Linked DNA regions of Homo sapiens. The protein of the gene in region 7 interacts with the protein of the main gene of each other region in a biochemical or structural test. Each region holds a gene or a part of one and is shown on either strand. Other genes may lie near its edges. The genes, in order: SIAH2, HTT, PML, SUMO2, MDC1, L3MBTL2 and PIAS1.

What was found.
Region 1: the proteins of PIAS1 (region 7) and SIAH2 form a complex in vitro, tested with the Homo sapiens proteins (one study listed by BioGRID).
Region 2: the proteins of PIAS1 (region 7) and HTT form a complex in vitro, tested with the Homo sapiens proteins (one study listed by BioGRID).
Region 3: of the proteins of PIAS1 (region 7) and PML, one has a biochemical effect on the other in vitro, tested with the Homo sapiens proteins (one study listed by BioGRID).
Region 4: the proteins of PIAS1 (region 7) and SUMO2 form a complex in vitro, tested with the Homo sapiens proteins (4 studies listed by BioGRID).
Region 5: of the proteins of PIAS1 (region 7) and MDC1, one has a biochemical effect on the other in vitro, tested with the Homo sapiens proteins (one study listed by BioGRID).
Region 6: of the proteins of PIAS1 (region 7) and L3MBTL2, one has a biochemical effect on the other in vitro, tested with the Homo sapiens proteins (one study listed by BioGRID).

What each region holds. Positions count from the first base shown.
Region 1 is NC_000003.12:150,743,398-150,746,169, forward strand, and holds part of SIAH2 (E3 ubiquitin-protein ligase SIAH2), read right to left. Parts: intron 1-2,772. UniProt on the Homo sapiens protein: E3 ubiquitin-protein ligase that mediates ubiquitination and subsequent proteasomal degradation of target proteins.
Region 2 is NC_000004.12:3,207,181-3,210,680, reverse strand, and holds part of HTT (huntingtin), read right to left. Parts: intron 3,401-3,500; coding exon 3,324-3,400; intron 1,909-3,323; coding exon 1,770-1,908; intron 855-1,769; coding exon 732-854; intron 1-731.
Region 3 is NC_000015.10:74,039,716-74,043,215, reverse strand, and holds part of PML (protein PML), read right to left. Parts: intron 228-3,500; coding exon 77-227; coding exon of another isoform or gene 36-76; exon of another isoform or gene 1-35.
Region 4 is NC_000017.11:75,172,960-75,176,459, reverse strand, and holds part of SUMO2 (small ubiquitin-related modifier 2 isoform a precursor), read left to right. Parts: intron 1-1,636; coding exon 1,637-1,708; intron 1,709-3,500. UniProt on the Homo sapiens protein: Ubiquitin-like protein that can be covalently attached to proteins as a monomer or as a lysine-linked polymer.
Region 5 is NC_000006.12:30,714,482-30,718,585, reverse strand, and holds the start of MDC1 (mediator of DNA damage checkpoint protein 1), read left to right. Parts: upstream 1-1,304; 5' UTR 1,305-1,341; exon of another isoform or gene 1,342-1,644; coding exon of another isoform or gene 1,645-1,704; intron 1,705-2,878; exon of another isoform or gene 2,879-2,998; intron 2,999-3,407; coding exon of another isoform or gene 3,408-3,410; coding exon 3,411-3,546; intron 3,547-4,104. UniProt on the Homo sapiens protein: Histone reader protein required for checkpoint-mediated cell cycle arrest in response to DNA damage within both the S phase and G2/M phases of the cell cycle.
Region 6 is NC_000022.11:41,208,312-41,211,811, reverse strand, and holds part of L3MBTL2 (lethal(3)malignant brain tumor-like protein 2), read right to left. Parts: intron 2,691-3,500; exon of another isoform or gene 2,117-2,690; coding exon 1,879-2,116; exon of another isoform or gene 1,861-1,878; intron 1-1,860. UniProt on the Homo sapiens protein: Putative Polycomb group (PcG) protein. PcG proteins maintain the transcriptionally repressive state of genes, probably via a modification of chromatin, rendering it heritably changed in its expressibility.
Region 7 is NC_000015.10:68,057,315-68,060,814, reverse strand, and holds part of PIAS1 (E3 SUMO-protein ligase PIAS1), read right to left. Parts: intron 3,336-3,500; exon of another isoform or gene 3,286-3,335; coding exon of another isoform or gene 3,235-3,285; intron 1-3,234. UniProt on the Homo sapiens protein: Functions as an E3-type small ubiquitin-like modifier (SUMO) ligase, stabilizing the interaction between UBE2I and the substrate, and as a SUMO-tethering factor. Catalyzes sumoylation of various proteins, such as CEBPB, MRE11, MTA1, PTK2 and PML.

The DNA.
Region 1 (2,772 bases), on a different chromosome or scaffold from region 7:
TAACTCAGAAGACTACTGGTCAGTCTGGTTCTGGCCAGTAGAGGTTAACATGAGAAGGGCCTAACCCTCCTCTCAAAGCTTGCTGACCCCCAACACTTCCTCAGATTCAAGAGCACATCATTTCATGGTCAGGTATGTCAGGTCCTCACAACAGGCCCGGGAGGAAGCAGAACTAGACAAGTTTGCTGACATGATCAGTCTGCCCCTCAGACACTGCCTTAATAGGGTAGGAGAACAAAATCATTTTCTCCCTTGCACTTGGGATGACATTCCTAATGGATAAATCATACCTGCCGTGGCAAAAGACCACACCAAGAGGAACTGAACTTCTACTCCAGACTCTCACAAGGATGACAGTGTTAATTCCTAGATACCAGATGGAGATCAGCCCACAAGTAGACACCTGCCCTGAGTACTAAGCTGTTCTGTAAAGAATTAAGAAACCTGAATCACCTTTTCAGGTGAAACTAGGTGTCAGCCTTAGACCCCTGGAGCACAGAATGGCAGGGGAACTGTCTGGCTAACTACACTTGGATTCCCCTGCTCCACTGAGACATGAAGGCACCAAATAAGGGCAAGGCCAGGTCATTTTTCTAAGATGCTATGTCCAGTTGCTAAAAAAAAAAAAAAGCACCACTGCTGTTTTTGCTTCTCTCTACCCTGCTTTATAGAATAATCCCCCTTTTAAACTTGAAGTCGGTCAAATTCTAACCTTCATAGATGAATTTATCACTAGCAACAAGCAGATGGTATGCACTATGTGACTTCTCCATACAAGACGCTAAGTTACAGTCACTCAGAGGATTCCGAAGCAAGGATGACAGCCTCCACTCTCAGGGGGATTAGTCTCCCCTAATCGGAAAGGAGAGTGGCTTAAAGAAAGAAATGTAGCTCATCCTCCAACCCCCACTTCCCCATACCTAAGCGGATTATAATATTTAACAGAAATTGGCAGAAATATTTCAGTTACTTATTTGCCCATAGGAATTGTTTGTTCATCTTTTAAAACTCTGAACTAATTTCTAAAGCCTGGCTGTAAAAAAACTCACTCAGGAGAAACAAATTTATTTATCCATGTGTATTCATACTTTGTGTTCCTTACTTTATAAGGCCTGAAAAACAAATCCCTATTAACTGTGTTTTAAATCTAGGGTGTGGCTAGGAATACAGAGCCTCCTCATGTTCTTCTGTGAGTGATGGGTGAGACATTTCTGTCCAGTTTAAAAAAACACACACACACAATAAAAATAGCAAGAAATAGCCCAGAGCCTGGCAGAGTCTCGAAACAAGCTCTCAATATCTGAAGATGTTTCAAGACGAACTTTTCCCCATAGCTGCCCAGGAATGAGATGAACTTTGGCCAATGGCACCCAGAAAGGTACCAGCTGCACCTCTGCCCAAAGTCCCAAACCACTCCTCATTCATGACGAACTCAACATTTACAGCAAATATTTATCACTTGGCAATCATTTTATAACTTTCCCCACTCAAGTAGGAGTATTTATACTCTGAATTATTTGATTTGCCTTACAAATCACATATTCAACACTTCTTTCCACCCAAATATACAGAACAGGGAACCTCCCCAAACTGCACAAATAGAAAAGGCATTACTTTGCATTTGTGTGGACAACGATCTCATGTTTTTTCATAAGGATCTTGCTACATCCTCTATTAACTTAAATAAATAGTTTTAAAGCCTTAGGTGCTTACTCTGCTTTTACTGAACAAGCAGAACTTTCATGGCAATCTATCCCTTCTCTTTCCATCATGGGTAAGGTTCATGTCTTCATAACAACTGGTGCCACTTTTATGATGACTAAAGTCTAAATTTTAACCCCCTACACACACACACACACACACACACACACACACACACACCCCACATTTCATACTTCAAGCAGTTTTGGCATTGTTCTGGAATGGCATGTCAGAGCACCATGGGTGTTTTGTCACTTTCATCAGGGGCTCTCATCCAGGGATCCGAGGGAGGACTTTAGTAGTTTGTGAATTCCCCAAGACTGTATGTAAAACTGTCTAGGTGCTTCTGAGCAGCAAAGCCAAGTCTCACTGGCCCCTGGCCTTGGGCTTGTGTTTTCTTTTCTTTTTTTTTTTTGAGATGGAGTCTTGCTCTGTCACCCAAGCTGGAGTGCAGTGGCGCGATCTCGGTTCACTGCAAGCTCCGCCTCCCGGGTTCATGCCATTCTCCTGCCTCAGCCTCCCAAGTAGCTGGGACTACAGGTGCCTGCCACCACACCCAGCTAATTTTTTGTATTTTTAGTAGAGACGGGGTCTCACCGTGTTAGCCAGGATGGTCTCGATCTCCTGACCTCGTGATCCACCCGCCACGGCCTCCCAAAGTGCTGGGATTGCAGGCTTGAGCCACTGTGCCCAGCCTGGGCTTGTGTTTTCTTGAAGAGCTCCAAGGGTTTCTAAGAGTTTCCAGGGCTGAGAACCTCTATCCTAGAGCACACAGAAGGAATCAGCTGTGGATCCTGCCCTTGTGGTGTTTCCAGTTGAGAAAGACCATATAATAAATTTAACAACTATGTAAAGGAAGACCAGGAGGGCAACAGGTGATTTCAAGGTGGGACAGGGTGAGGAGGACATGGTAAGGAAAGCTTTATTGTAGACAAGTGGATTGTGGATGGAGTTGTTCCATCTGGTTCTAGCACAGGGTGAGTGGAGGAAACAGTGGGGATAAAACCTCAAGGAGGCCAGGCGCGCTGCTCACACCTGTAATCTCAGCACTTGGGTAGGCTGCGGCAGGTG
Region 2 (3,500 bases), on a different chromosome or scaffold from region 7:
CCGTCCTAGTAGGTCTGAGAAGAAGCCCTGCTTGGGCCATGGCTGCACCATACCCAAGAGGTGGCCCCCCCACTGCTCACAGGACCTGCCCACGGGTGAGGGACAGGGACACCAAGGCTTTGCATGGCCTCCTAGCTCTGCGCAGGGTGCCCTCTGACATCTGGGGTTGGGGGGTGAAGAACCTCACTACATCTAACAGAGGTGTGAGTAGAGGAAATCTCGCTGCATCCAAGGGTCTCTTTTACGACTAAAGATCAACTTCCAAGACACTAGAAACAAGTTATTGACGTCACGCATTACGACACTGTGTTGAAGTCTACGGCAAATACGCAACCTTGACTTCCATTCTGTCTTGGCCATGGAGCTTAGATGATAACATCCTGTGTTTGTTCCTCCAGTGGAGGCCAGATAGTTCTCATCCCAAACCATACACCCAGCCTTGGGGCCAGCTGGATTTCAAAACAACACCTCCGTGGATTCTAATGTGGCTGAAACAATGTGCTTTTCTGTCTCGATCAGCATAACCCCCATGTCCCGACCCCATCTGAAATGGAGTCCTCCCCACTTCCCGGCCCCATTCAGAGTGGAGTCTCTCCGACATCCCGTCCCTGCCCAGACTGGAGTCCCCAACATGTGTTGTCAACAAGTGGGTCACATGATGATGAGACAAATCCCACTTGGAAGTCACAAGAAAAGCTGAGGATTCCTTGCCTCCACTGCTCCCCCCGTACCGAGTTCATCATGAAGGCATTCATATCTTCAGCAGGAATCCGATTCACCAGCTCTGCACCTTCCAGCAGTGCAGAATCTGACCTGGTCCAACACTGGGATTTGACAAGATGAACGTACCAGTCCTGGGAAGAAAAAAATGGATAAGGGGAACATGATGGGCGGCGTTCAAGGGGACTTCACATCCCTGGAGCTACAGGCCTAGGCCAGTGCTTGGGAACACCGCACTAGGCTGAGAGGGCTGCCGGCCGGCAGGCTGTGGCTATACGGCTCACCACACCACAGGTTTTCCCCTTTGGACTTCTGTTACCTGCCTGGGCACCCTCACAGCCTCCCCCTTCACCTGGTGAACTTCCAATAGGCCTTCCAAATATAGCTAAACCACTAAGGGTTAGCGGCCCCTTTGCCATCCTCTCCTGGGTTGTCTGCTTTACTCATCTCTCCCCAGCAACCAGGGCAGGGCAGGTGCTTAGCGAATAGAGCCTAAGAAGGCAGGACTGAACCTTCGCTTTCTTATACTTGGGCTGCTGGTTTTTGAAATCTAAATTCATATTCATAAGCTGAACTTTGTCCAGGAAAGTAGAGTACCAAGGCTCTACCAAGGCTCTACCAAGGCTCCAGGTGGTCCCTAACCATGAGGTATGAGCAGTGGAGGTGCTGACAACATACCAGAATGGCTGGCAGTGGCAGTGCAACTCACAGGTGGCCAGAAGGTATGAGGAGATGGAGGGAGGCTAACGGCATTGACATGTGCTTGAAGGCCTGTGCAGTCAGGGGCCTGCAGGCCACGGCCGACTATTCCTTGATTCACCCACTAACTACTCACCCCACACTCCTACCAAAAGGGTCCCACATCAGCACTGCTTGGCTCCCTCAGACCTTGATGGCCCCCCACGTCTCTAACCACAGCTTCACTGAGCCGAGCCGAGCGCCAGAACTCCTTGGGTCCACGGCACCTCCTCTGCACTCTCTGTATCTGCCACAGGTGACAGAGGCACTCAGCGCCCTGTGCCTCCCATGCAGACACGCTGGACACTTACTTTGTCCGGACTCACTGTTTCCAGTGACACGTGCCCATCCCCGTCCAGCGGGTGGGAAGAGACTGGAGGAGAGGGACTAAGTGAGTCTTGCATGGTGGAGAGACGAAACCTGTCCAGCAGGGAATAGAGCCTTTGGTGTCTAAAATACAAATAAAAATGAAATTACAGTATAATTTGTTTTTTTTTTTTTTTAGTCTTAGTCTAAACTCTGCACACTAGGATTCTAGAAATATACACTCTAAGGAGATGCACTATTAGTGGCTTCTTAAAGGAAAATACACTTGTTTAAACCTTTTTCTTCACAGCTATCTTCTCATCAATACTCAAACAGGTCATGATACAAATGCAGGCCCTAGTTTACTTTTAAGTATCACAGTTTGTACTCCATTAATATTTTCCAGAAATTTCATTTATACTCAAACACTGCAACAGGCAATACACAGTATAAAAGCTAATAAAGGCTTTCTTAATAAATGTAAAACAGATCATCTAAGACTCAAATGCACAAATTCCACTATCAAATATCCCAGTAAGACAACTGATAGGAATTCATGGTCATTTCAAAATAAAATCACCTCATCTGGCACAAGATATTTATAATCTTTTAATCTCCCTCATCTGGACTGAAGACTAAGTCTAGGGTCAAAAAGTAATAATAGTTTATCTCCCGCCATCTGCTATGAGAGTGACAACTTCATAATGCAAATTACAAAAGAGCTTGGCCCTACAGACTGAAAAATCATCCCAAACTGTCCACCTAATTGTGCCCAATCCCATTTAAAAACACCATCAACAAGGTACTCTAAAGACTGAAAAGCATAATAGACAAGGTACTCTAAAGACTGAAAAGCATAATAATTTTTGTGTGTTTTTCCTTTTTTGCAGTTTCAGCTCAAAGTACACAGCATGATAATTATATTCTCCTTCTCTGCTGTCTCTCTCTCCCTCTCACACACACAATCCCTGCCCCCCACCCCGCCCCGCAAGGGAAGGAAAAAGGTAAAAGTTTAACTTATTCTGCAGTCATGGAAATACACTCACATAGGAGATGTAGGGATTTCTGACAAAGGCTTCTCAAAGACTTTGCAAACACAACTAAATGATTAAATGCTTTGAAGACATAAAATGGCAACAGGATGCAGATGTAAGTCCTGCATGCCAAGGATTGAGTAATGTCTCTCAGATTTGCCAACTCTTGTTTAGCAATTAGATGACATGCTTTGATTTTGCTAAGATAAACCTGATAACCTATTTTCCCACTCATCACAGGACAGTGAATACAGGCATTCTAAATGCTACCTCTCAAACAGCCACCAGGAGTGCAAACTGCCTCCACTCACGTCACAGACGTGATCCTGCCGGTCATCCTTTACTCTTTAGAAAGTGAGATCTGGTTGTTTTAAAAGTAGGAAGGTTCTATTATGGCACTTCTGCAGTAAACCCACCTATAAGGCACATCGATTTCTTGTCCTGTGAATTTATTCCCGTACAAATCTATATCCTTTATATCCTGGGTTGTCCTAACACAAGGACGACCTGTGTTTCCAGCATTACCTCTGAGCGAGCCCGCTGCTCTGAAGGTATTCCTGGATTCTGTTGAGTTCTTCCATTGGCAACTGGGCCATGCTGCTCTAATAGACAAAAACACATTAGTGTGTTTGTAACACCTAACAACCCAAAATAACCTCATGCTCATTTAAAAAGGATGAACTGATGTGTACAGTTCATCCT
Region 3 (3,500 bases), 6.0 Mb from region 7:
TGGCTCTGCCTGCACTTCTTTTTGGGACTCAGAGACTAAATTAGAAAGGGGTGGGGGTAGCCCCAGGAGAACCCACTTTCATTGTCAATCTTGAGGTCAAAGAAAACCAGAGGTCTGTCTTCTGCTTGGGGGTCAGCAAGGTTCTCGTCCAGGACCCTGAGGGTGCTGGGGCCTTCCAGCTGGAGGTCACTGGACTCACTGCTGCTGTCATCCAGCTCTCGGGAGGACTGCAACACAGAAAAACCAAGCGTCAGGGATTCAGAGGGCCAAGGCAAGCACCTGTGCAGAACACTAGCAAGCTGGTATAGCTGGGAGCATCTGCGTGCACATGAAGGAGGGTGTACCACTGGGAAAGGGGACGTGTGCACAAGAGAAGGTATGTGTGCATGAATGGGTGTGAACTGGGTGTGTCACATGTGAGGGTTACATGTATGAACCAGGGCATACACCCTCATGAGTAGGGGAGGAAGGGTGACACACACAGGTTGTGAACGTGCATGTGTGGGAATGAATCCAAGTGCTAAATCTGTGTGTGCATGCACAGTTAAGTGTGAGCTGTGAACCTGCGTTGACACAAGTGTATGAAAGTGTGAGAGAAAATGCCAGTGGGTGTGTGCATGAGTGTGCTGTGCTGCTTATGGAGGCTCAGGGAAGGAGCCATCTGCTATGGCAGGCAGGACCTGAGATGTCTGCTCCTAATTTCATCTTTCTGAGCAGACTCAGAAGAAACACCAAAACTTGGGACGGGAGAAAGAAGCCTCATCTTGAACCCCAGATGATTCTTTGGAAGGGGTCGGGAGCCTGCCTTTTCTTGTCCCCGAAGTCAGCCGAGGTGCCAGTGTCCTACACAAAGGCGAGGGGAAGGACTGCTTGGCCTCCTGAAGGCCACATCTAGGTGGACACCCAGGTCCTTGGCAGTGAGAGAGCAGTGGAGGCTCTTGGCATCTGCCCCAGCAGCTTAGAGAAACCTGAGTTTTGGGAGTCCTTCAGGTGAGGCGTTCTCTCCTGTCCCAAGGTCCTGGTGGGAACACTGTTCGAGAAGCCATGGGGTGGGGAGCCAGAGGATGAGGGAAGGGCTCCAGCTCTGAGATTTTCCCAAGGGACTGGGACTACAGAGGGAGGTGGAGCCTCTGATGGTAATACAGAGTTAATTGCTTATCATCTGCTCAGCTGCCAAGCCCAGATGTTTAGTCTTTGATGACCAACTTGGAACCTCCCATGAATGCCACCTGTGGACGTTAGCCAGAGACCAGCAAGGAAGAGACATGGACAGGATCACAGGGCCAATTGGGAGCATGGCTGGGACAGAGTCCAGGGCAGGCCTTGGGTTTTTCCTCTTTATGGACTGCCGCTGGCTTCTCAATGAAGTTGGTGTCACCTGGTGCTAAAGCCTCAGTTAATTCTGGCCTCTGGCTAATGTCCCTGGCCTAGGAGGCAGCACATTTCCCCAGACCCTTCCAATGCCCAAGTGAAACATCTGCTTCCAACCAAGCTTCAACTGAGAGAAAAAGCGTTTCCACCCACAAGTAACCTAAGATGTGGTGGGTTTTTGTAGGAGTGGCTGGATTTCACTGGATTTGCATTTCACAGCCCTGCTCCAGGCTCATCAGCTTTCTGCCAGTTATTGTCAGAAGCAGACACTCACTATGAATCCATCTAGAGCTGGCTTTGCCTCTTCATATCCAGGGATCTAGTCAGAGAGTCTGCCCAGCGCCTCGCATCTCCAGATCCTCATTCAGCCACGCTGTCAAAAGCTGATTTCACACGTCTTGCTCCGGGTGAGCCCACACTGCTGTCTCGCCTTTCCAACTCGGTTTCCTCCCTGTAAGGAGCCTTCTACAAGGCGTCTTCCTAGCTTGTAGCTGGGTGGCTGGAGACTCCACCTTCTCCCGCTTTGGGAGAATCCAGTTGTTTCCTCTCTCCAGGCTTCACTGGGCAGCAGCGCTCTCCCACAAGCTGGTGGAGGGGCTGGGCTCCCCTTCTGGGTCCTCCCTGGTTCAGATCCTTGGTGCCAATAGCTGAGGCTGAGTCCATGCTGCCACCCACTGACATGGCACACAGGACTTTCTCTTTTTCGTTCTTCTTCCTGCTCCAAACCCAACTGGAAATGCCCCTTTGTGTTCCTGAGTGCCTCCACAAAGCTCGGGGCAATGTCCTCGGCCTTAGAACCAGTCTTCCCGCCTTCAGATCTGCTCTTCCAAGAGGAGAGCTCCCTGGAGAGCCACAGTACTGTCTCTTTAGGCCACCCCTCCCATCGTTACAGCAGGGTCATTTATGGCAGCCACTAGAACCTCGTTTTTAGAGCCTTCCATTGTCCCGGGGCCAGGGAAATGTCCTTTGTCCTAAACTTACTCGAGCTGCCTTCTCTAAGAAACCTCTACTGTCTCCTTTAATAAAAGGACACCCCCTTTCCACCAAGCTTGTTAATGGAGGAGAGGCTGGACCTTTCAGCCCTGACTCACTTCCTCCAAAATTCCTCTTGCCCTTGGGGACTTCCATAAAGTATGGCCACCCATGGAGCTGGTCTCACTGGAACTCCAGCCAGCTGTAAACCCAGAATTCTCCCCTGCTCCGCCTTAAACTCCAGCATCACAGCTGGGGAGTGCTGACGCATTTAAACAAGACTTTCTGAAAGACTCAGGTTTGCCAGCAGGGCCATCAGACATAGTGGCCTGGTGCAGAACATACTCCCCTCCCTGCTCACTAGGGGAGACTCTCCCATTCTGCCCCCAGGCCCCACACCTTGGCCTTATTCCGCAAATTAGGATAACTGGGTGTCGGGGGAGCATAGAGAGGGACAGTCACTGGAAAAGACTTAGATTTGCTTGGAAGAGAAAAGGAAGGGGGACAGAAGAAAGAAGATGGGAAACAGAGCCTTGAGCCTGCGTGTGAGGACCGGGAATCAAGGGGGAAAGCTTTGCTATGCAGTGAGAGATGCCAGGCGCCAAAGAAAAGGGGAAGAAGGACTGAAGAAGTGCTGCTGGGGTTATGAGCTGGATTCCCTTTAATGTTCTTTCAAAAGATGCAAGTAAATACTGGGATTTATTTCTTTATTATACTTGGTTAATGGACATTGTTTCTTTGAATGCAAAACTGTGTTCAGGCTGAGCCTCGTGAGAGCCAGGATTTTTTCAGGATATACATGCAACTTGGATACACCTGCAATCTGGCTCATGAGCTACATCCATCTCACTCCCCTTCCTCATAGATTTCACGGCCTGAGCAGGTCAAGTGCATTCTAACTCAACACAGCAGGTCTAACAGTCGTCCCAAGCATGCTCAGAGGAAGTGGCTGGATTGGCATTGTAATCACACTCCAAAAGTCCAGGAGGTACATCAGGGAAGATCCAGCCTCTCCCCTCCTCTGCGGTATTACACCCTGGTATGAAAATGTCACCTGCATTCAAGACTGCCACATCTATAAACAAATGAGCAGCATTCCTCTACCACAGACATGCAATGAATCCCCCGATTCAGTGGTTCTTGACTTTGGTTAGGCA
Region 4 (3,500 bases), on a different chromosome or scaffold from region 7:
ATTTTCAGTAGAGGCGGGGTTTCACCATATTGGCCAGGCTGATCTTGAACTCCAGACCTCAGATGATCTGCCTTGGTCTCCTAAAGTGTTGGAATTACAGTGTGAGCCCCCGAGCTCAGACTGGAGTCTTTAAATGGGCATTTTTTTCCTTTAAATTTCCTGTTAGTGGCCAGCCAGGCGGATCACGAGGTCAGGAAATTGAGACCATCCTGGCTAACACGGTGAAACCCCATCTCTACTAAAATACAAAAAATTAGCCCAGCATGGTGGCATGAGCCTGTAGTCCCAGCTACTGAGGAGGCTGAGGCAGGAAAGTCACTTGAACTCCGGTGGTGGAGGTTGCGTTGAACTGAGATTGTTCCACTCACTCCAGCCTGGGCGACAGAGCGAGACTCCATTTAAAAAAAAAAAATTTCATTTCCTTGTCTAACTCATTTAAATGCATATTTGTCTCAAGGTATGTTCTATTTAACATTATAGTAGCTGTGTCTGAAAAGCAGTAAAGCTTTCTAAAAGAATGACTTACTGGCTGGGCGCAGTGGCTCACACCTGTAATCCCAGCGTTTTGTGAGGCTGAGGTGAGTGGATCACTTGAGGTCAGGAGTTCGAGATCAGTCTGGCCAACATGGTGAAACCCTGTCTCTACTAAAAACACAAAAATTAGCTGGGCATGATGGCAAGCGCCTGTAATCCCAGCTACTCGGGAGGCTGAGGCAGGAGAACCACTCGAACCCAGGAGGCGGAGGTTGCAGTGAGCCAAGATCGCACCACTGCACTCCAGCCTGGGCGACATAGCAAAACTCTGTCTTAACAAACAAACAAAAACAACAACAACAAACAGGCCGGGCACAGTGTCTTATGCCTGTAATCCCAGCACTTTGGGAGGCTGAGGTGGTCAGATCATCTGAGGTCAGGAGTTCGAGACCAGCCTGGCCAACATGGCGAAACCCTGTTTCTACTAAAAAATACAAAAATTAGCCAGGCATGGTGGCGCCTGCCTAGTCCCAGCTAATCAGGAGGCTGAGGCAGGAAAATTGCTTGAACCCAAAAGGTGGAGGTTGCAGTGAGCCGAGATCGCGACACTGCCCTCCAGCCTGAGTGACAGAGCAAGACTCTGTCTCAAAAAAAAAAGAAAAGGAAAAAAAATACTACATCTTACTGTTCACTGAAAATGAGAGGCTGGGCACCATGGCTCACTCCTGTAATCCCAGCACTTTGGGAGGCTGAGGCGGACGGAGCACCTGAGGTTAGGAGTTCGAGACCAGCCTGGCCAACCTGATGAAACCCAGTCTCTACTAAAACTACAAAAATTAGCCGGTTGTTGTGGCGGGGGACCGTAGTCCCAGCTACTCTTGGGAGGCTAAGGCAGAAGAATCGCTTGAACCAGGAGGTGTAGGTTGCCTTGAGCTGAGATCACGCCACTGCACTTCAGCCTTGACAACAGATCAAAACTGTCTCAAAAAAAAGAAAATGAAAATCACCCCAAATCTTTTTACCTATAGGGTATGTTAACATGTTGGCAATTGTTTATTTAGGTATTTCTTTAATATATTCATGGTTAAATATGCATGTACTTTTATGTAAATAGAATTCTGTTTCTCTTAATGCTGTTTATTGCTTTTAAATTCTCGTTCAGGGATTGTCAATGAGGCAGATCAGATTCCGATTTGACGGGCAACCAATCAATGAAACAGACACACCTGCACAGGTAAAAAAATCTCTCCTAATTAGAAAAATTACCATTTGTAATTCTTTGAACAGCTGTGTTTATGAATTTGAACGTTTAGACACTGGAGTATAAGTTCTTGTAGAGTTCAGAGCTTTGGGAAGTATGACCAGAGGGGAACAGAAAGGAAAATAGGAATAGGCTCAGGAAATGCCAATGGTTTTTATTCATTTATTTTTAATTTTCATTTTAATTATTTTTTTAGGGACAGGGCCTCTCTGTTGCCCGGGTTGAAGTGTAGTGGCCTCATTATAGCTCACTGCAGCCTTGGCCTCCCAAAGTGATGGGATTATAGGCACGAATCAATGTGCCCAACCCCACCAGTGGTTTGTGTTTGTTTTTTGTGACGGAATCTCACTCCATCGCCCAGGCTTGAGTACAGTGTCACGATCTTGGGTCATGGCAGCCCTCGCCTGCCATGCTTAAGCAATTCTCCTGCCTCAGCCTCCCAGAGTAGCTGGGATTACAGGCATGCACCACCATGCCTGGCTAATTTTTGTATTTTTGGTAGGGATGGGGTTTCACCATGTTGGCCAGGCTGGTCTTGAACTGCTGACCACAAGTAATCCGCCCGCCTTGGCCTCCCAAAGTGTTGGGATTGACAGGTGTGAGCCACCGCACCCAGCCAAATCCTCACCATTTTAGTTCTACATGCTGAATTGAAATTCTCTTTTACGTGTCTTCATGAACAAAAAGGAACTAATAGCCCTAATTGCCACGTCCCATAGCTTTGTTTGACAGGGAGAGCCCCTGATAATAGGAGATTTTCCAGATCCTTACTACAAAACGTGATGCTCTCTGATCCTTTAACTCTTTATGTACCACTTCATTTTGTTCTGTCACTTTCTGTAGGATCAGCTGGATTGTCTTCTGTGGCAGAAGCTCTTTGTTTCTTTTTACCCTTTCAAAGTTCCATTAAATACTTCCAGTTTTGTCCTAGCAGGGTGGCTCATGAGAGCCATTTTCAAGATTACAAAGTGCTTGTAATGCCAGCACTGTGACGCCAAGGTGGGCGGAGCACTTGAGTCCAGGATTTCAAGACCAGCCTGGGCAACATGGCAAAACCCTCTCTTTACAAAAAAATACAAAAATTAGCCAGGGAGCAGTGGTACGTGCCTGTAGTACCAGCTACTTCTTAGGGTGAGGTGGAAGGATTGCTTGAGCCCAGGAAGTGGAGGCTGCCGTCACCCAAGATGGTACCACTGCACACCAGCCTGGGTGACAAAGTGAGGCCCTCTCTCAAAAAAAAAAAAAAATGACTTCCAGTCTTGTCCTGACTTGGTGGCTCACACCTGTAGTCCTATCACTTTAGGAAACTGACACTGGCAGGAGGGTTGCTTGAGGCCAGGAGTTTAAGACCAGTCTGGGCAATATAGCAAGACCTGGTCTCTACAGGAAAGAAAAAGAGCTGGGCATGGTAGCATGTGTCTGTAGTCCCAGCTTCTTGGGAAGTTTAGTGGGAGGGGTGCTTGAGTCCAGGAGTTTCAGGCCGCAGTGAGTTATGATCATACTACTGCACTCCAGCCTGGGCGATAGAGCAAAACTCTGTCTCAAAAATAGAAGACTTACAGTTTCTGAAACATATTTTACAATGTTGTGATAGTAGAAATTTAAATTGGATCCCATGTACTTTTGAATTTCAACTTTATCACCCAGTAAAAACTAGAAAGTGATAAATGTGGCATGAAGCAGCACATCCAGATTGTAGTTTTGTTGATAATCTTTGAAAATTGGAAAAGCCCCTGAGTTGTACTGAAAAGAAGAATATTTTGAA
Region 5 (4,104 bases), on a different chromosome or scaffold from region 7:
AATCCCAGCACATTGGGAGGCCCAGGCGGGAGAATCACCTGAGGTCCGGAGTTTGAGACCAGACTGACCAACATGGAGAAACCCCGTCTCTACTAAAAATACAAAATTAGCCGGGCGTGGTAGCGCATGCCTGTAATCCCAGCTACTCGGGAGGCTGAGACAGGAGAATTGCTTGAACCCAGAAGGCGGAGGTTGCGGTGAGTCGAGATCGCGCCATTGCACTCCAGCCTAGGCAACAAGAGCGAAAGTCCGTCTCAAAAAATAAAATATAGATGGCCGCATGCGGTGGTTTACGCCTGTAATCCCACCACTTTGAGAGGCCGAGGCGGGCGGATCACCTGAGGTCAGAAGTTCGAGACCAGCCTGACCAACATGGAGAAACCACGTCTCTACTAAAAATACAAAAATAAGCTGGGCGTGGTGGCGCATGCCTGTAATCCCAGCTACTTGGGAGGTTGAGGCAGGAGAATCGCTTGAACCTGGGAGGCAGAGGTTGCGGTGAGTCGAGATCGCGCCATTGCACTCCAGCCTGGGCAACAAGAGCAAAACTCCATCTCAAAAAATAGATAAATTAGTTAATTAAAAAATAAAAATAAATGATTTTATGATCCTTCCCTCGCCCCTCGAAAGGTGGGGACAGCCTTTAAGACAGAGAGCAAACCAGTTTTCTCTGTTCGACTACAGATCTTTAGGATCTTGGATTTAAGAAAATGACCTCAAAATGTCCGTCAGAGACGTATTCCCAGGAAGAAAGATATTACTTCTACTACAAACCAAATCAAAAGGAAATGAAATTCCAATGCAACAGGAGTGAACTGCCACGCCTACGGGCTGTTCTCCAAACTGCAGCCTCCAGCCACGACTGCAACGCGCAACCCACTTTCATTTCTCATGAGTCAGCGGACACCATGTCTAGGAGGACCGAGGAAAGGCGCTCTGGCCTTACCAGACACGTCGGACGTCTATGACACAGCCCCTCTATCCGTTGCCGGCAGCTGGCGCCAGACTCTCTGGTCGCGGTTTGGAACTGCGCGGGAAGTGGGTGGTGGGCGGGCAAGCGGTAGTGGGTTGTCCCTTGGAGCTGCCCAATCGACGTGCATTATTCTGTTGGCGCACGGCGGCCTTCAATTACCGTCTCATTAACTGATCTCAGCAGCCTGGGAGACACCACCTATTTGAACTCTAAGGGGGCGGGGCTTTGGGTGTGCCTCCGCTCGACTGGCTGCGGTTGTGAAAGACAGCGGCAGAAGCCAATCAGCAAATAAGCTCTTTTTCGGCACACGCAGTCGCTCCACCTGGGTCGCGACCGTTACTGGTGGCGCGCGCGGGGACTTAAAGTAGGTGAGTTCTAGGGGCCTGGCCCACGGCTCCCCGGGAGCCATCTTGGTTCCCCCAGAAGGCGGGAGGGGCGTACCTTGGGTGCGACTGGGCGGAGGTGACTTGGAAGTTCGCTTCTCGGACTGTAATACTCATCCTTACCTGGCGCCCCGCTCCGAGTTTAGGTATGAAGACACAGGGAGACGTCGGGCCACAAGGGAACCCACTGAGGTGGGGACCAAAGATGGTGGCTCTTTGAATTGGAGCCAAGCGTGGTGGGCACCCGCTGAGTTGGCCTGTCATAAAGACGGAGTTGACACTTTATCCATGGGGCATCCTACTTTCCCTACCTGTCAACAGTTTCCCTCTAGAGTGGCATATTTTCAGGTGAATTCCATTTATGCTATTTTCTTTCCATCTCATTTGTTCCTTCATCAGTAGGCTCGGTGATGAGCCTTCCCGAGGGCAGGGTCGATTTCATGTTTGGTTCACAGATGTATACCAAATACTTCAAACAGGTATACCATAACCATTGAATGAATATGATGGACCCTAGGGGAAAGACACGGTTCCCCTAATCCAGTCCTGGAGGTGGGTGAGTGTGAAGGCAGAAATGGAAAGTAATGGTTACAATATAGCGAGAGATCTTAGAGTAAGCACAAATCCATTGACCACTGTGGAACAGGCAGGATACACCAGGAACACGAGAAGGCAGGGAACACGCCAGGAAAGGGTTTGCTGAGAAAGTGACATTTGAGGCCGGGCGCGGTTGCTCACTGCTGTAATCCCAACACTTTGGGTGGCCAAGGTGGGCGGATCACCTGAGGTCAGGAGCTCGAGACCGTGGTGAAACCCCGTCTCTACTAAAAATACAAAAATTAGCCAGGCGTGATGCCGGGCGCCTGTAATCCCAGCTGCTCGGGAGGCTGAGGCAGGAGAATCGCTTGAAGCCTGGAGGCAGAGGTTGCAGTGAGCCAAGATAGCACCACTGCAGTCCAGCCTGGACGACAGAGCGAGATTCCATCTCAAAAAAAAAAAAAAGAAAGAAAGTGACATTTGAACTGAATCTTAAAGGATGGTAGAAGTTGGACCAGAAAACTAGGTGGGAAAAAGCCAAGGAATTGGGCTAAGGCATGAAGATGTGGGAAGACAAGAACAGTGTGTTCGAAGACTGGGGAAAATGTCTGGCTGAACCATAGGCTTTTGCGGGCGAGGGGTAGGCGTTACAAGATGTGAAGTTCAGATCATGGAGGGTCTCGCTAAGGAGTTTAGATTTTATTCTGTGTGCACGAAAAACCATCAAGATTTTAGAGGAGAGACATCTGAGTGATTTGGGGCAAGTCTTAACCTTATATATGCTTATGTATGTTTCAAGGAGATCTGAAAATCTTAACCCAGCTATGTTGCAGTTTCTTTATCTGAAGAAATGGAAGATAGTAATACTACTTTACAAGGTTCTTGTGAAGATTAAATGAGTCAGAGTCGATATAAAGTAATTAGAACAGTGCTTGACACATAGGAAGCTTCTATATATGTCATCTTTTATTATCATTTTTTGCAGTTGCATCTGATCAAACTGAGGTGGTCTGGTAAAAGTATAAAAAGCATGGGCTAAAAAAGAAAGAAAAACAACGGGGCGCAGTGGCTCACGCCTGTAATCCCAGCACTTTGGGAGGCCAAGGTGGGCGGATCACCCAAGGTCAAGAGTTCGAGTCCACCCTGGCCAATATGGCAAAACCCCATCTCTTCTAAAAATACAAAAATTAGCCAGGCATGGTGGCAGGTGCCTGTAATCTCAGCTACTTGGGAGGCTGAGGTGAGAGAATTGCTTGAAACCCGGGAGGCAGAGGTTGCCGTGGGCCCAAGATCTTACCACTGCATGCCAGCCTGGGGAGCAGAACGAGACTCCATCACAAAAAAGAAAAAAATGTTTTAAGTGCTTCAGAAGGTTAACAACAGAAAGATTGGTGGAAAGAGAAGCATCAACGTTCATAATGATCCAGTTTACCCCCTAGTTTTCAGTCTGATAACTCTGATGCTGTTTGTGTGAACCAATAATGAGGATAATTGATAATGTGTATCCTTCCCAGATCATGGAGGACACCCAGGCTATTGACTGGGATGTTGAAGAAGAGGAGGAGACAGAGCAATCCAGTGAATCCTTGAGGTGTAACGTGGAGCCAGTAGGGCGGCTACATATCTTTAGTGGTGCCCATGGACCAGAAAAAGGTCAGAGGGTATTGGATGTTCAAGTATTGATATAGATCTTTTATTTTTGTGGTAAGGTATTTGGAGGGTTGCAAGAAGCTTATGTATGTTTCAATGAGATGTGAATTTTTTTTTTTCATGAATGGAAGAGATGGGGCCGATTGAGTTGATAGTTGCAGACTACTACCCTGGACTCACTGGAAGTGATTTTACTTTGATAAAAGAAAATTAAGAGATTGAAATGAAGCTGGGTGCAGTGACTCACACCTGTAATTCCCGTGCTTTGAGAGGCCAAGGCAGAAGGATCACTTGAGACTAGGAGTTAGAGACCAGCCTGGGTAGCATAGCAAAACCCTGTCTCTACGAAAAATTTAAAAATTAGCCAGGTGTGGTGGTTCATTTCACATCTGCAGTCCCACCTACTTGGGAGGCTGAGCCAGATGATCACTTGAACCCAAGAGTTCAAGATTGCACTGATCTATGATCATGACACTGCATTCTAGCCTGGGTGACAGAATGAGACCCTGTCTCAAAAAAAAAAAAAAAATCAAATAAAATCCAATTGTGTGCTCTGGAGAT
Region 6 (3,500 bases), on a different chromosome or scaffold from region 7:
GCCGAGGAGGGCAGATCACAAGGTCAGGAGATCGAGACCATCCTGGCTAACATGGTGAAACCCCGTCTCTACTAAAATACAAAAAAAATTAGCCGGGTGTGGTGGCAGGCGCCTGTAGTCCCAGCTGCTGGGGAGGCTGAGGCAGGAGAATGGCTTGAACCTGGGAGGCGGAACTTGCAGTGAGCCAAGATCATGTCACTGCATTCCAGCCTGGGTGACAGAGCAAGACTCCGTCTCAAAAAAAAAAAAAAAAAGGAAATAAGATTCAACTGCAAAGAGTATTAGATTACTCTTCTAACGAGTTTGGGGCTGGGTGCGGTGGCTCATGCCTGTAATCCTAGCACTTTGGGAGGCTGAGGTGGGGGATCACTTGAGCTTGGGAGTTCAAGACCAGCCTGGGTAACAGGGCAAAACCCCTGTCTCTACAAAAAAAAAATACAAAAATTAGCCAGGCATGGTGGCGTGCACCTGTAGTCTCAGCTACTCAGGAGGCTGAGGTGGAAGGATTGCCTGAGCCCAGGAGGTCGAGGCTGCAGTGAGCCATTTTCACACCACTGCACTGCAGCCAGGGTGACAGAGTGAGACCCTGCCTCAAAATAAAACAAAAAAAGTTTGGGATCTAAAGGATGGCAGTGTCCTCACAGACTATCCAGCCTGCCTCTCTTCACAGGCAGCCCACACATGGGAGGCCCTGACACAGGGGTTCAGCAGCTGTCCAAGCATCACATTTCCAAAGTCAACTGGCTTCCAGATGATCCATAGGGATTCTCATCTGCCCGCCCCCAACCCAGTCCTCCTACCCAGGGTCACTTTATCGTGTATTACCTTCCCACTCCCACCCTGACTTCCAAACCACAAGTTATTTGTCCCTTCTCAGAAAGTAACCAAAACACTTTAGGTTTCCTATCTTCTCAACATCCACGTTGGAAATCCATGGTATACTTATACAAAAAAGCAGCACCATGCTACTCAGTGGCATCTAATCTGTGCTGAATACACATTAGTTATATGAAAGAATGAGTGAAGTCACAATTTGAAATTAGACTAGGGCCGGGCACAGTGGCTCACTCCTGTAATCCCAGCACTTTGGGAAGCTGAGGTGGGTGGATCACCTGAGTTCAGGAGTTTGAGACCAGCCTGGCCGACATGGTGAAACCCCGCCTCTACTAAAAATACAAAAGTTAGGCTGGCGCGGTGGCACACGCCTGTAATCCCAGCACTTTGGGAGGCCGAGGCGGGTGGATCACGAGGTCAGGAGATCGAGACCATCCTGGCTAACGTGGTGAAACCCTGTCTCTCCTAAAAATACAAAAAATTAGCCGGGCGTCATGGCGGGCGCCTGTAGTCCCAGCTACTCAGGAGGCTGAGGCAGGAGAATGGTGTGAACCCGGGAGGCAGAGCTTGCAGTGAGCCGAGATCGCGCCACTGCACTCCAGCCTAGGCAACAGAGCGAGACTCCGTCTCAAACAAACAAACAAACAAAAAAATACAAAAGTTAGCTGGATGTGGTGGTGGGTGCCTGTAGTCCCAGCTACTTGGAAGGCTGAGGCATGAGAATCACTTGAACTCAGGAGGTGGAAGTTGCAGTGAGCCGAGATCATGCCACTGTACTCCATCCTGAGCAACAGGGCGACACTCAAGTCTCAAAAAAAAAAAAAAAAAAAAAAAGAAATTAGACTTCAGCAAAGGAAGTTAACACAGTGGCTACTTGGGGTGCTTCTGTCTCCCTTACAGGTCCTTACACATCTGATCCCTTAGAAATCAGAGTTAATAGCCTTTTACATCTGGATGGCTCTGCCCATATAGCCTATATCCACCCCCCTCTTCCTCTATAATCTTCTATCTCCTCTCCATCCTCAGGGGACACTCTGAAGGCACCTGGCTCAGAACCACTGCCATCCAAGGAGCGAGGAGTCCCAGGGCTGAGCAAATGCAGCGGGGAGGTCGGCAGTTCCCCTGCTTCCCGATCCTCATTTTCTGCTTCACTTGACTCCTCCAGATAGGAGCTGCTCTCACTGCCCACACTGCTGTTATAACTCCGGAAACTATCATAGCCACCAAACAGCTCCAAGTCGTCATCTTCCTCTTCCTCCATTGGTTCTGAAGATGGGGTCTCCTAATGGAGGATGACACAAACCAGGTAGAAAGAATTATGATTGGCTTTAGTGCACGGGGGGAGAAGCTGCAGATCTGCTATCAGCCCCCTCACACTTTCGGGAACCTTTCAAATACCCCTTTTACAAACACCAAGATCATTACTTCTATTTACACATTTCTCCACCATGATGCAATTCAACAGCTTAACAAGACAGAAAATATGTGTTAGGAATTCACCAGGCTCCTCTGTGGATTTACAAATGATGATATTTTAACATGGTTCAAATAGAATACTGTATAACAATGTGGGCCAGGTGCGGTGGCTCATGCCTGTAATCCTAGCACTTTGGGAGGCCGAGGCTGGCAGATCACCTGAGGTCAGGAGTTCGAGACCAGCCTGGCCAAGAGGGTGAAACCCTGTCTCTACAAAAAAATACAAGAAAAAATTAGCCAGGCGTGGTGGCGGGCACCTGTAGTCCAGCTACTTGGGAGGCTGGGGCAGAGAATTGCTTGAACCCAGGAGGCAAAGGTTGTAGTGGGCCAAGATCGTGCCACTGCACTCCAGTCTGCGTGACAGAGCAAGACTCCATCTCAAAAAAAAAAAAAAAGTGAAATATCCTAAGGTACTTCACAAAGACTTTCTGGGGTAGAAGATATATTAGAAATTAATTCTTAGCCAGGCACAGTGGCCCACACCTGTAATCCCAGCACTTTCCGAGGCCAAGGTGGGTGGATCACGAAGTCAGGAGTTCAAGACCAACCTGGCCAAGATGGTGAAACCCCGTCTCTACTAAAAATACAAAAATTGGCTGGGTGTGGTGGCGGGTGCCTGTAATCCCAGGTACTTGGGAAGCTGAGGCAGAGAATTGCTTGAACCCGGGAGGTGGAGGTTGCAGCGAGCTAAGATCGCGCCACTGCACTCCAGCCTGGTAATGGAGTGAGATGCTGTCTCAAAAAGAAAAACAAAAATTCTTCCCCGTTCAATATACATCAAAATGATCTCAACTCAGAAACAATTTAAGTCACAGAAAAGTTAATTTGGGACCTAGACTGCTCCAAAGAGGATGGGAGAGGCAGATGACACACAGATAACTGTGGCATCTTGGTGTGTACTACAGCGCTAGATTCAGCTCTGAGCCTAACTAGCTATAGGGCCTTGGGCAAGTCATTTAACTTCTGTGGGCTTCAACTTTCTCATCTATAAAATAAAAATATTTGACTCGTGAGATGCAAATGAGATAATGTATATGAATCTACCCAGCATGTAACAGAAAACGTGTGAAGAGCCTGGGTACGGTGGTTCACATCTGTAATCCCAGCACTTTGGGAGGCTGAGGCAGGTGGATTGCTTGAACCCAGGAGTTTGAGACCAGCCTTGGCAACACAGCCACACCCCATCTCTA
Region 7 (3,500 bases):
CTACTCGGGAGGCTGAGGCAGGAGAATTGCCTGAACCCCGGAGGCAGAGATTGTGGATCCTTGAAACTATGTTACCTCCCAATTTAAATGGCAACACTTTGTTTTGAGATTAAAAATATGGTAAAGTCTTATTTCCATTTTCTCTATATTAATGTTCAGTATAGTGTTTGTTTTTTGGGGGATTTTTTGTTTGTTTGTTTTTGAGACGGAGTCTCACTCTGTCGCCCAGCCTGGAGTACAGTGGCACGGTCTCAGCTCTCTGTAACCTCCGCCTCCCAGGTTCAAGCAATTCTCCTGCCTCAGCCTCCTGAGTAGCTGAGATTACAGGTGCGCACCACCACGCCCGGCTAATTTTTGTATTTTTAGTAGAGATAGGGTTTCACCATGTTGGTCAGGCTGGTCTCGAACTCCTGACCTCGTGATCTGTCCACCTTGGCTCCCAAAGTGCTGGGATTACCACGTCTGGCAATGTTCAATATAGTTTTAAAATGCCAGTTAAAAACTGATAAGCATCAGCTGGGCGTGGTGGCTCACACCTGTAATCCCAGCAAAACAAAAAAAACTGATAAGCATCTAAATAAGGTACAAAAACTTGCAATATGTGGTCACTGTGATATAATTTCCAAAATCAAACATACTTGCCTACTTGAAATTCTACTATTCATAGAATAGTATGAATAGATTATAAAATACTACTTCATAATCGATTTCATACTTTATCAAACATTCTGATGCTGAAGTAATGTTTGCTTACATTTTGTAAAACCTGTATCTGCCATCATTTAATAATCTTATCTCACATATTACAGAAACATAAACAATAAAGGTATGACAATGAACAAACCAAGAATGACTAATTTATTTCACTGACAACATTTTAGCTAATTTTGTAGAGTGGGTGCAGTGGCACAGTACCTCACACCTGTAAAAACCGAGCACAGAGGCACAGTGTCTCACACCTGTAATCCCAACACTTTGGGAAACCGAGGCAGCACTGTTTGAGGCCAGGAATTTGAGACCAGCCTGGGCAACACAGTGAGACCCCTGACTCTACAAAAATAAAATAAACATTTGTATTGCTTTCTTTTTTTTTTTTTTTTTTTTTGTTTGAGACGGAATCTCACACTGTAGCCCAGGCTGGAGTCCGGTGGCGCAATCTCGCTGCAACCTCTGCCTCCCAGGTTCAAGCGATTCTCCTGCCTCAGCCTCCTGAGTAGCTGAGATTACAGGCGCCCACCACCACGCCCAGCTAATTTTTTGTATTTTTAGTAGAGACGGGGTTTCACTATCTTGGTCAGGCTGGTCTTCAACTCCTGACCTCGTGATCCGCCCACCTCAGCCTCCCAAGGTGCTGGTATTACAGGTGTGAGCCATGGCATCCGGTCCTGCATTGCTTTCTAAAGCACAAAAAAGATCTGTCATATCAATATATTTAGTTAAAATAAAACATCTGCAAACTTTGGTACATGTCTGCAAACACACTGCAAAAAAAGGAGAATAATCTGGGCCTGGCGCGGTGGTGGCTCACGCCTGTAATCTCAGCACTTTGGGAGGCCGAGACGGGCAAATCACAAGGTCAGGAGATCGAGACCATCCTGACCAACACGGTGAAACGCCGTCTCTACTAAAAACGTACAAAAAAATTAGCGGGGCGTAGTGGCGGGCACCTGTAGTCCCAGCTACACCGAAGGCTGAGGCAGGAGAATGGTGTTAACCCGGGAGGCGGAGCTTGCAGTGCGCCGAGATCGCGCCACTGCACTACTGCCTGGGCAACAGAGGAAGACTCCGTCTCAAAAAAAAAAAAAAAAAAAAAAGTAGAATAATCTGACAGGGACTAGTTTAATAAAACACAATGTAAGGTTTCAAATGATCATATAGACCTGTATTTACTAACCTGGATAGACATGAAAATAGCAGATTATAAATAAAAAACAGTGTTGTATCTTTTTATGATGAATATACATATACATATGCTCACAGAGAGAAAGTCTTAAGTGGATAAATACCCAGATGTTAACCATGATATCTCTGAGTGTTGGGATTACAGGTACTGTTTATTTTTCTGCTTACTTCTCAGATTCTCTGAAATTTTCTCAAGCAAAATGATACTTACAAAAATTAATGTGTATGATTCCAACTAACAAACTCCAAACTTTTTGCAAGGAAGCTTGCAAAATGCCCTAGAATATCCAAAAATACCCTAGCATAGAGCTTTTCCAAAAGGGAAAGTATCAGCAACAACATAAGTAGAAATCTGTGAACTGGGCACCCTAGAGGACTCCAGGTCTGCTGTAGGACCTTTAAGGAGGACTACACAAGACCTAGGCTCAAGTCCCTGCCACTTTTATTTGTATGACCTTGCAATAGTCACGTACCCTTTCTGGGCTCACTTTCTCTATCTATAAAAAGGATTTAGTTATTACTTGCCTTTCCTACCTCAAAGAACTGTTGGAAAGATCAAAAGAGATAATGCAATATATTATGAACTGCAAAGTACTATATAAGTAAGATATTATTATTCAAACATTAAAAAAGCAAGATGCTTCATGCCAGAGTCAAACACTTCAGAAAACACCACAATCAATTCTATGAAGTAATGAATCCGTTTTTGGTTGTTGTTTTGAAAGGCTACATCTCATCATAAACACCCAGTTTTTCTGAGACTTGGATACTTTTTCCCAGTTCCCGCTACAACCATTGGCCATTTTATTTTCTTATCCCTGGTTACCAGCAAAAAAGGGTACAAATTACACTAAACTCAAAAGCCTCAGCAAGAACCCTGGAGCAGCATGCTGATGGAGTTCACCAGGAGACACCCAAGGTTAATCAGCTATGGACTCGCCACTAAGCACTACCGCAATCAACAGGGATTACAAGAAACTCTTTGAAGAAAAAGACAATGGGATCGCCCAGGAGAAAACGGTGGATGAAAAGAAGGAGGTATTTCAAAACAATCATATGAAATACTTAGAAACTATACGTAGTATTTTATAAACTATACTGTAGAGTTTTTAAAATACTGTTGATAAAAATAATGACATAAAACAAAAGCCATCTAAATGTGGCACTTGACAAAAGCAAGTTATAGAGATTCAAATCAAATCCATGAATAAACTATCAGATGTACTTGACTCTATCTGAAATAAAAGCAGACAAATTACAGCGTAAGGATCAAAATTAAGTAGCTATTTCTTGAAAATAAAGAGGCAGAAAATAACAATAGAATTCACTGACACACTCATAGTAACTTTTATAATTATGGTTTCTCTTCCCATTTAATTTCATTATTTACTCCACTAAAATGCTGATGGACTTCTTCTCTCCCACTCTTCTTCCTGTAAATTAAAATGGCACTATAACTTGGTTTGAGTTTTACTCCAAAAAAACACATATTTTTTTTTAAATTACTTTAAGAGGAGTTTCATGAAGCTGTCAGCTTATTAACTACCAAGATCATCTGGCCATCACACCCTCCTGCTTCTAAGTTCCTAAAGATGACA